Homo sapiens: one gene and its partners. The protein of the gene in region 1 interacts with the protein of each later gene in a pairwise test. Each region holds a gene or a part of one and is shown in the gene's direction. Other genes may lie near its edges.

The links.
Region 2: the proteins of GPR37 (region 1) and SLC8A2 interact in a two-hybrid assay, tested with the Homo sapiens proteins (one large-scale study listed by BioGRID and IntAct).
Region 3: the proteins of GPR37 (region 1) and GLP1R interact in a protein complementation assay, tested with the Homo sapiens proteins (one study listed by BioGRID).

What each region holds. Positions count from the first base shown.
Region 1 is NC_000007.14:124,759,145-124,762,795, reverse strand, and holds part of GPR37 (prosaposin receptor GPR37 precursor), read left to right. Parts: intron 1-3,651.
Region 2 is NC_000019.10:47,427,391-47,430,730, reverse strand, and holds the end of SLC8A2 (sodium/calcium exchanger 2 precursor), read left to right. Parts: intron 1-265; coding exon 266-642; 3' UTR 643-2,714; downstream 2,715-3,340. UniProt on the Homo sapiens protein: Mediates the electrogenic exchange of Ca(2+) against Na(+) ions across the cell membrane, and thereby contributes to the regulation of cytoplasmic Ca(2+) levels and Ca(2+)-dependent cellular processes.
Region 3 is NC_000006.12:39,072,752-39,076,402, forward strand, and holds part of GLP1R (glucagon-like peptide 1 receptor precursor), read left to right. Parts: intron 1-110; coding exon 111-264; intron 265-858; coding exon 859-1,018; intron 1,019-1,562; exon of another isoform or gene 1,563-1,630; intron 1,631-3,651.

The sequences.
Region 1 (3,651 bases):
GTAAACAGAAAACAGTACCTACTTAGACGGACCAAAGCTGGAGACAGTAAATAAGACCCTCTGTTATCTTGACAGGGATCAGGTGCAGGATCATTCCATGACTATGAAATCAGCTGTTGCTGCTTTAGCAGCGTCCATGATTTCTCCTGTTGCCAAGCTTGGCGTATCTCTGAAACATCTACTTTGTTTGGTAGACAATTCATTTTTGAATTGTGAAGGAGCCAGTTGAACTCATGTTAGAGAATATGTGTCTATTTACCAAACTGCCTCTTCAAGGTCAGTTTCAAATTTCTTTTTTTCTTTTTTTTTTTTTATCAGAAGAAATTGACTTATGCAAGAAAGAGACAAAAGTATAAAGCGGACAAGAGAGGTACCTCAATGACAGAGAAGTGTATTGGCTTATCTCACTGGAAATGTACTGGACATGTAGAAATCTGTATACACTAGAGGGAAAAACAATAGGACAGAAAAAGGAAATTGGGGAAAGAAAAATAAAAACACCAAAGTTCTTGAAAGAACACCTTAAAAGAAAAGAATATCAAATTCAGGAAAGATTATAAAAACTTTGGTTAATTTAATGAGATATAAGCATTTTGAGCAATGGCATTTATTATGTACTTATTTTAATTTTCTTTTTCCGTAATTCTGAGTTTGTACAAATGTAATACTTTCTTTCATTTGTATTTCACTTTTTAATTTAATCAGCTCCTCCTTAAGAGTGCTTTGTTTTTTGCCTCTTATTATTAGTAAAATCTTTTACTTTCTGTATTTTTGCTTAACTTTTCCCCATCCTAGTAGCTTTCTCTATTTTTCAGTTATTAGTGCTAGCATTTATTTTTCTTAGAGAATCAAAGGCTTAAAAAATTCACTCATTTATTTTTTAAAATTACAGTATAATATACATTTTTACTGTTAAAATAGTGAATGAACATCTTAATATGTAGCATTTCTATATTTCTACCTAATCCTTATTACTCTGAAATAATTTTAGAATGGTTTATAAAAATAATTATTGGACAATATTGCTGGCTTCATAATTCCTGATTACTGAGAACAAGAACTACAGTCCAAATCTCAAAATAAAAGTGTGTCTCCAGGAGGCACTGATGTTTTCACAAAAGTAAGAGGTATTTAGGGTTTCTCCTACGTTGGGTTCCTGCAAAAACAGGCCCTGAGATGTAGATTTATTGGGGCATCAAGTTTATTGGGTTGTGCTCTCAGGTTCAACCTATTAAGGAAAGAAGAAAGCAGGATTGGGCGGGCAAAGGGAGAAGTTGAACTGTGATGCAATTGCCACAGAGACCTCAGCTGACACCATTAGGAGCTTTAGGGCTGGGATGGCCATGCAGCCATATCCCAAATTGAGGCAAGAGGGCTCAGCCTTTACATCTCTTTATGGACCAGTCATTAGATGTAAGACATTGGATGCAAGCCTGCTCCCAGGATGGGGTATAACCTTGAGTTGGGTGGATCTCTTTGGTCAAGGGCAATTCCTAGAGAGGGATGCAGCTAAGCACTGTCAACCAATAGCCCCAGCAGCTGGAGGAATCAGTGCTTCATTCTTGAAGGACTTTGGAGGGAGCTGTCTGGGTGGAAAACCACAGCATCCACTACAGTAGCTTTTTTTTTTTTTTTTTTTTTGAGACGGAGTCTTGCTCTGTCACCAGGCTGGAGTGCAGTGGCACGATCTCAGCTCACTGCAACCTCTGCTTCAGGGGTTCAAGCTATTCTGCCTCAGCCTCCCAAGTAACTGGGACTACGGGTGCGTGTCACCACACCCGGCTAATTTTTTTTGTATTTTTAGTAGAGATGGGCTTTCACCATGTTGGCCAGGATGGTCTTGATCTCCTGACCTTGTGATCTGCCCACCTCTGCGTCCCAAAGTTCTGGGATTACAGGCGTGAGCCACCACGCCCAGCTTACAGTAGCTTTTGAACAATCATGTTAAATCAGACATAGATAATGTTCTAATCCAACTCCCTCATTTTAAAGATGAAATTTGAAGCTCAGAGACTATCCTAAACATATATACCTGGTCAGTAGCCACCAGACCCTTGGTCTCAATGCTTCATGTTTATATTTGCTGATTAGACCAACCTGTATGAAGCACAAGCTTTATCCAGTGAGTGTTTTCTTTTCCTTTCCGCTCCTTGGCATCTGAAAAATTTTTTCTTTTTTTAATCCACTAGACAGGAAAAAATAAAAACCCGTAAACATCATTTGTTATATAATGAAATGTATAGCTTCTTTTGTTTCTCATAAACTGTCAGTAAGTTCTGCAATTGGTAGTTAATTAAAATTTTTTAAATTGCAGTAATCTGAGACAACTATACTTTTTAATTTGCCTAGCATGATGACTTTAATGACCAAAAAGTTATATAGGTTAAATTTTATGTTCTTAAAATCATGAAGTATGTTAGATTGGTGAAGGACATTACAAGTACATTACATTTGTTCAAACTTTCTCCAAATCCCCTTCCAAAATTTTGCCTCTGACCTCAAGACTTTTAAAAATTTTTTGACATCTTGTCTACTTTCATATTTCTAAATTTTGCCATTCCTTCACTTGTTACTTTCTTATTTTATTTCTTGGCTATTTTTCCTTTCTTTAACTATGTATAATACCTTCTTATAGATTTATGATGTAGCATTCACCATTTTCCAGTAAGATGTTTAACCTTTTTCAGTGTTTTTATTTTTAATTTTTTCGTAGTTAATTTTAAATTTTATTCTCAATAGATTATGATTGAATTTTATAATTTTTCTCTCCCAGCTTCTCTTTTGCTTTATTTTTCTTTTCTACCACAGTTCTTTCTCCTGTACAGCTTGAGCGTTAGCATAATCTGAAGGGAATCGTGGGATTTTGGGGAAGATTTGGGTTTGTGTAGAAAAATATGAGGTACTTCTTGAGTAAAAACTATACTTTTTCTAATTTTCATTCAACTCCTCTTTCTATTTTAATTTGTTGGCCTAAAGCTTGAGGATAGCACCCAGCTTCCAAGGTCTATTGTGAGAAAGGAAGTTTTATGATGTTTAATATTGCCGTGAGTGAGAATGTTCTGGGAACTGTTGTAGTTGATGACTTTTCCCTTTCTATTCCAGGATTATGACATCTTTATGGCCTAATAATAAATCTCATAAAGTCGAAGGACAAATGAAATGGTAGGAAATGCCAGATAGGAGAGAAGAAAATTTGGATAGATCATGGCCGTCCTCCTAGACACATCAGTTTAAAGTGGTTTATTACTTAGCCACAAGAAAAAAACTATACTCAAAACAAAACTTGTATATGTAGTGTGCTTTTATGTGTATTAGGGGAGGTGGAGATATGTGTGGGTGTGGATTGCAATAGGAGAATGGCAGAGGAGTTCTCTACCATACCTACCATTCACTTAGGAATCTAACAAGTGTTTAAAACCAAATAATTTGGGCCAGGTGTGGTGGCACACCCCTGTAATCTCAGCACTTTGGGAGGCCTATGCAGGCAGATTGCTTAAGCCCAGGAGTTCAAGATCAGCCTGGCCAACAGGGCGAAACTCCATCTTTACAAAAAATACAAAAATTAACGGGATGTGGTGGTGCATGCCTGTAGTCCCAACCATTCAGGAGGCTGGGGTAGGAGGATTTCTGGAGCCTTGGAGGTTGAAGCTG
Region 2 (3,340 bases), on another chromosome or scaffold:
GAAATCACGCAGTGAGTCCCATAGAAGAGAATGAATCCCACAGAAAGCAGGCGGCAGGTCCCATAGAAAGCCGGCAGCGGTTCCAGTGGCGAGCAGGCCTAAAGGTGGTGATGGACTTTGCCTCTTGGGTGGGGGTCAGGGGTCTTGAGCCCACACTGCCCGCAGAAAGCAGGCGACCGGGAAAGGCTGGGAGGGGGCAGGCGGATGCCCGCCCCTGTGGGTGGCGGCGCAAAGCCCCTCCGACCTGTATGTCTCTGCCTCGCAGACACGTTCGCCAGCAAGGTGGCGGCGCTGCAGGACCAGTGCGCCGACGCGTCCATCGGCAACGTGACCGGCTCCAACGCGGTGAACGTGTTCCTTGGCCTGGGCGTCGCCTGGTCTGTGGCCGCCGTGTACTGGGCGGTGCAGGGCCGCCCCTTCGAGGTGCGCACTGGCACGCTGGCCTTCTCCGTCACGCTCTTCACCGTCTTCGCCTTCGTGGGCATTGCCGTGCTGCTGTACCGGCGCCGGCCGCACATCGGCGGCGAGCTGGGCGGCCCGCGCGGACCCAAGCTCGCCACCACCGCGCTCTTCCTGGGCCTCTGGCTCCTGTACATCCTCTTCGCCAGCCTGGAGGCGTACTGCCACATCCGGGGCTTCTAGGGCCTCGCGCAGAGACTCGTCCCCACCGCCCGCCCGGGGCTAGGGACTCGGCTGCACCTGCTCTTGGACCCTGGTCTCCTTTTCCCCCCAGACTCGGCCTCCTCTCCTGGGACTCGGCCTCCCTTCTCCGCCCCCTCCCCTGGCTTTGATTGCCCTGTTCTGTGTCCCCAGTAGCTCAGCCTTCCCTCTTCCTCTCGGGAGCCTCCCCGGTTCCTCCCCTGCGGTGACCCCAACTCCAGCCCATCCTGTTGGTGACCGTCTATATCCCTGGGGAAATTTCCACCCCAGTCCCCTCCCCAGGGAACCACCCCCAGTAACCATCCTGGGGAGTTTAAGGTCTCTCTCCTTGGTCACCCAGCCTGGCTTTGCCCCCAAAGTCTCCCTTCCCCTAGTGACCCCCCCCCCACTTCACCCCATGTCCCAGAGCCTCAGAACCCACCCTCCCTGGGGGACCCTCGAAGGAGGCTGTCAGAGGCCGTCTCAGCTCCCAGCCCTTCCCCCCAGCCCTCAGGGAGCTCCGCTCAGCCCCGGCGGGGAGGAGCGGGTGGGTGTGCGCGCAAGGAGGCCGCACACCGTTCCTTCCAATCCCTCCACTCGGGTTCTTGGGAGGACACTCATTCTCCAGGCTCGGAGACGAGGGGAGAAGTTTGGGGTTTCAGTCCCAGGGCTTAGCCGGAGGAAGCACATTTTGAACCTGCAACTTCAGACATTCCAGCTCCCCCACTCGCCCTCCACTACCTCTGAGAGCCCAGCCACGCCTTGGAGGGAGGGGCTTGTGTGTGTATATAGTGTGTTTGGGGGAGGGGGGACGCGGGAGGGTGCATGTCTTGGGAAAAGGGGGTGACAGACAACTTTTGAGAGGGCAGCAGACTCCCTCAGCCATGAGAACCAGCTTTGGGGAGGAGGCCGGGAATCAAAGCGAGTCCAGTTGATCTCCCCTGACAATCTGGAAGGTTCCTTTTGCCCTCAGTGCCAGCCAATCCGGGCAGGACCCTCGAAGAGGAGACCGAGGGTCCCAGAGGACCAATGCTACAAGCCAGCAAATGCTGCCACATCTCTGCCTGATGGGGGGTGGGGATGGGTGGGGGGATGGGACTGGGCCAAGGGATCTGGGTGGGCATTTTTAACTTTGGAGGCCTTCCATCTGTCGGTAGGCCATCTGCATTTTCTTACTGTTGATGTTTCCTGCCCAAAGGACACATTTGGGCAGTGCCACCCACTCCTTGGGCCCCTAGGATGACCCAACTACCCCCATAACTTTCTGCTTCCCACAGGTTTTCAGCATTCTATCGTCCTGTTGTGCTCAGCCCCAACATCCCAGACCCGTTACCCACTACCCTTCTCTCCCCCAGCTCATCATCAGTCGCTGTCTCTTTTCTGTGATTTCTGTAAAAGTTGCCATAAAACTTTGAAATTCTGCCTGAAAAACAGTCCCGTGGGAAGCTGGGATTCAGGAGGAGGGGGCTAATAAGGTCTCTGACTGAGATTTGGGCAACTGTTAAACCAAGTAATCTGGGTTTTTGCGGCCCGCGGTCGTCTGCGGGACACACCCACATATAGCAGCAGCGCCGGGGTCCAGCCGCCAAGCTCTTCCACTCGCCACGCCCCCATCAGTAATGAGCTTCCACTAGCCACGCCCCCATCCGTCAGCCTAGCTCTTCCACTAGCCACACCCCCATCCATCAGTCATGGGCTTCCACAAGCCACGCACCTCCACTCTCCATGCCCCCATTCGTCAGTCGTGGGTTTCCACTAACCACGCCCCCATTCATCAGCCAAGCTCCTCCACTTGCTACGCCCGCATCCGTCAATTACGGGTTTCCACTAACCACGCCCCCATTCATCAGCCTAGCTCTTCCACTAATCACACCCCCACTTATCAGTCGTGCTTCAGCCACGCCTTCCTGCTTCAGTCAGGGGCTTCCACTAGCCACGCCCCCATGCATGAGCCACAAACTGTTTCTCTTTATGGGCATCCTGGGAACACAAAAGAGAGACGTTCATTTGCCTGAGCCAAAGAGCTGGGGTTGATGGGGTTTCCTAAATAAAGCAAGTAATTTTCTCAGATCCTACAGGAGGAGGGGTGTGTGTGTGTGTGTTGTGCCAAAGGACACAGCCTGTGTAAAGGTGTGCAGAGTTGGGAGATAATGGCTTTTTCAGAGCCCTGGAAATGGTTATCATGAACGAGGTATGGGGTGCGTGGGGAGTGAACTTGAGGACAAATCATAAGAGACTTTATCAGCCACTCTAGGGAGCTTGGAATATATCCTAAGAGTAAAGGGGAGCTTTGCAAGGGATTTAAGTGGGGGAAGGAGGCAGGCGGTTGATATCACCTGATTTATTTTATGAGACGTTCCTCCTGGCTACTGGGGGCTGGGAGACCAGGGACAAGGCTGGAGCAGGGACAGAGGCAGCAGACGAGGGGAGAGGGGAGTAGGAGGGTGGGAGGGCGATGGTGAGAAGGGAGTGGTTGAGAGAGAGAATGGATGGGGCTGCGTGAGGGAGTTCAGGGAGTGCATCTTGGCAGGAGAGAGGTGGTGTGTTCATTCAAACGGAGTAGCCAGGGAGAGTTGGGTGAAAGGGCTACTGAGGAGTGGGCAGGGTTGGGGAAAACGAGGGAAGGTGTAGTACCCCAGGGCTAGCAGCAGAGGGAGCAGTTGCCATACCTGGGCTAGAAGGGGTGAGCAGAGGCACCCGA
Region 3 (3,651 bases), on another chromosome or scaffold:
AGTCCCAGGGCTGGAAACATGCCTAATGTGTGTGTTAGCTTGAGAGCCTGGGGTTGTAGAGCAGAACTGTTGGCTGCCTTGCCAGGGAAAGGCCCTGCTTTCTCCCTCAGACACCTGCACTGCACCAGGAACTACATCCACCTGAACCTGTTTGCATCCTTCATCCTGCGAGCATTGTCCGTCTTCATCAAGGACGCAGCCCTGAAGTGGATGTATAGCACAGCCGCCCAGCAGCACCAGTGGGATGGGCTCCTCTCCTACCAGGTGTGTGGTGCATCCAGGACCGCCTCAGGAGGGATGGGCGGTTGGAGGAGGCCTGCCTCTGCCACCCTAGACAGGCCTGGGACAGGAGAAGACAAGAGCCGAACAGTCCTGGCCCTTCGGGAGCCCCCAGTCTGATGGGAGAGGCAGTTCGCCTTGGGACCCTCCAGTCTGCTGAGAGAGGCAGTCTACCTTAGGGAGCTCCCAATCTAAGGGAGGAGACACTGCCCTAGGGAATTCTCAGTCTGACACAAAAGAGTAGTCTTTGGAGACACACTTGAGTTTGAATGTCAGCTCTGTCACTTACTATCTGTACACTTTTAGGCAAGTCACTTACTTCTCTGAGGCTGAGAAATAGGTGAGAAGTCACTTACTTCTCACCTGCAGGGGGATACATTACTTTCTTCCAATCAGGATAGTGAGGATTCAATGAGCTAAAGCAGATAAAGTCCTTAGCACTAGCCCTAGCCAGAGATGTGAGCTCTCTCCTCCTGCATTAACCATGGCAGGATAGTGGCTGGAGCAGGACGGGGAGTGGTATCAAGAGAGGCAGAGGGCAGAGCTGTTGTCCCCATGACACCCTTCCTCTACCCCCAGGACTCTCTGAGCTGCCGCCTGGTGTTTCTGCTCATGCAGTACTGTGTGGCGGCCAATTACTACTGGCTCTTGGTGGAGGGCGTGTACCTGTACACACTGCTGGCCTTCTCGGTCTTATCTGAGCAATGGATCTTCAGGCTCTACGTGAGCATAGGCTGGGGTAAGAACCGCCATCACCCACCCTGGACCTGTGGCACGGGGGTGGGAGACCTTGACCCCTCTTCTAACATGGTACTTGGAACGCACTGCTGAGCAAGGGGCAAGGCCCACTGGGTAACCCTCTTCCTGGGCACAGGACCTTCTGCCCCGGTGCTGTTAAGATGCCGTAGGGGGTTATGGTCCTCCCCTCCTCTGCATAACTCTCCTCCCTTAATGGAAGCCTCCACCGCATGTGGCCAAACACCACCCTCTACCACTATCATGCACACCACTGGAGGTCATGGCACTGTTCTCTTAAGACCACATGGGGACATAAGTTCACACCCAGTCCCGGGCAGCCCGAGGGCCTGAGGGAAATGGTGAGTCCTGGGCCTCAAGGTGGGGAGGGGATCAAGAGGGTAGGGGGCTGGCTGGGGGGAGCCTGCTGGTGCTCTGTCACATGACGATGAAGAGGAGGGCTCAGAGGAGAGCCAAGTACAGTGGGGCAGGGGGGCCAGAGGCCAGCCAAGGAAAGGGTGGACGGCGGATGTGCCTGGAGCCCAGCTGGAAATGTTCTAGCCAAAAAAGTTTGCCAAGAACCATTGTGTCTTTTTTTTTGCTGGAACATTTCTGGTTGTGCTTCTGCCTCTCACCACGTGGGATTGTAATGAGGGGCAGCATTGGGGTTGGGAAGGGGGCTGGGATCCCCTTCACCCCTGGGAAAACATGCAACAGGCCTTTCTGGAGGGACCCACGGTACCCAGAGAATAGGCCCTGCCCTCTGTCCTCCCTAATCTGCCATTGAATCCATGAGTTTTCCTGTTCCACACCATCCCCCGCCCTGCTTGCCACTCCTTCATTCACTCCTCCTTCCTTCATGCGCCCACCTCACGCTGCTCTGACCACGGCTGCCCCTGCCACGGACCTCCGGGGACTTTCCAGCTCAGTCACATCCAGACTCCTCTTCCCTGACAATGGTCCTGTCCCTGAGCCTTTGCAAGGCTGTTCTCCATGCAGGAATGTTCAGGGAGCATCCTTCCCACACCAGGGTGTCCGCTGCCTCTTCAGGAAGCTGCCTCAGGCCACCAGTCCTCGTGGTTCTGTGCTCTCTGCCCTCTCAAGCTCTCCATCCCCTGTCCTTGCACTTCATTTATTTTTACTGGTGTTCCTCAGCCATTTTTCTCTATACAGCTCCCCCCACCCCCCAGGAGAAGAGTAGCCTGAGAGATTTTAATGTGACCAGTGTCTTGAGGACACCAAGGCCCAGAGCTGGCAGGGCCTTACAGGCAGAGCAGGCCCTGGAACCCAGGCCTCCTGACTCCCAGGCTCTGGGCCTGCGGCCATCATGCCCTGTTCTCTTGCCTGGGCTGCATCCCTTCAGTCCCCTGCAGCACCCCTGAGCAGGCTCAGGCCTCTGCACAGGTGGGCAGGTAGGCCTGGCTCCTGCTCACAGATCCCTGCTCCTCACCTGCCTCCTCCACTCCCAGAACCCAGTCCCTTCCTTGGCCTTTTCTCCCCGAGGCTTCTTCCTCCTGCTAGAGCAGGAGGAGGGAGGCCATCGAGGGCAGCTCAGGGAAGGCTGTCTTCAGGGTGGGGGACGGTGTCTGTCCATTCTAGGAAATAGCATCAGCGCTGTTAGTGCCTGTCACCATGGCGACCCGAGGGCAGGAACAATCAAGGGACGTGTGTGATGTGTGCAGAGGAGCGGGGGTGGCTGGAGTTTGGTGGGGACACACTGCCCTAGAGGTCTCTGAGTGGGAGATGGGGGAGGGAGTGCCAAGTCCTTTTCCTACCACCTCACACCCTAGCTCAGGGCTCGGGGTCTGTGGGAGCACAAGGGCAAGACCCGGAGGACACCCTGCTCTAATCAGAACACCTTTTTCTTGAGGATTGGGGTGGGGGAGACGGAGAGAGATTCACAGGTTGCTAGGAGCTCAGACGTGATGCCAGGAGGCCTTGCCCAAGCTGGGATACTTGGGAAACAACTTTCAGCTTCATGTGCAAGTGGAAGAATTAAAATTAGGACTCTGACACAGTTGGAGAGGTCCCCCAAAGGGCATGGCAGCTTCTGCTGCAGTCCCCAGGCAGTTGGGGGCCTGTAGAAACCCACATGGAGGCTGTGCAAGAGGGAGGCAAATGATGGTTGAGGGAATCATTACTTCCTGGAGCCAGTTGTGTGTGTCTTAATTTGAGCTTTTTTCTCCAACCTGTCTTGCTCGTTTTCTAAATGGGAGAAAGATGAAGCCAGCAGGGAGTGCGTAATGTTTGCATGCAGCAGGGCTTTCGTGACTGTGTTTTTTGAAAAGGCCTTGTTAAGGAAATGCTGACGATGAGTGAAACTTGCCAGGTCTGGCTGATAACATGGGTGAGTGCCCTGATCCTGGAAGGAGGTCTCAGAGAGAAGGGACAGCAGGGGGCGAGGGATACCCAGAAGGAAGCTTCTGCATGTGTACGTGGTTCAGGAAATCGGCATGCTCTTGCCCAGACAATGTTCCTTCCCTTATTGGTGTGTTGACTCACCCATCATTCGTTCCATTCTCACTGGGCATCTTCTATGTGGCAGGGCCTGTACCATGTGCTGGGGCCTTTGGAGACCATCCCATTCCTTGTCCAGTCTCATAAAGGCCTGTTACTAAAGCACCGTAGATGCTGAGA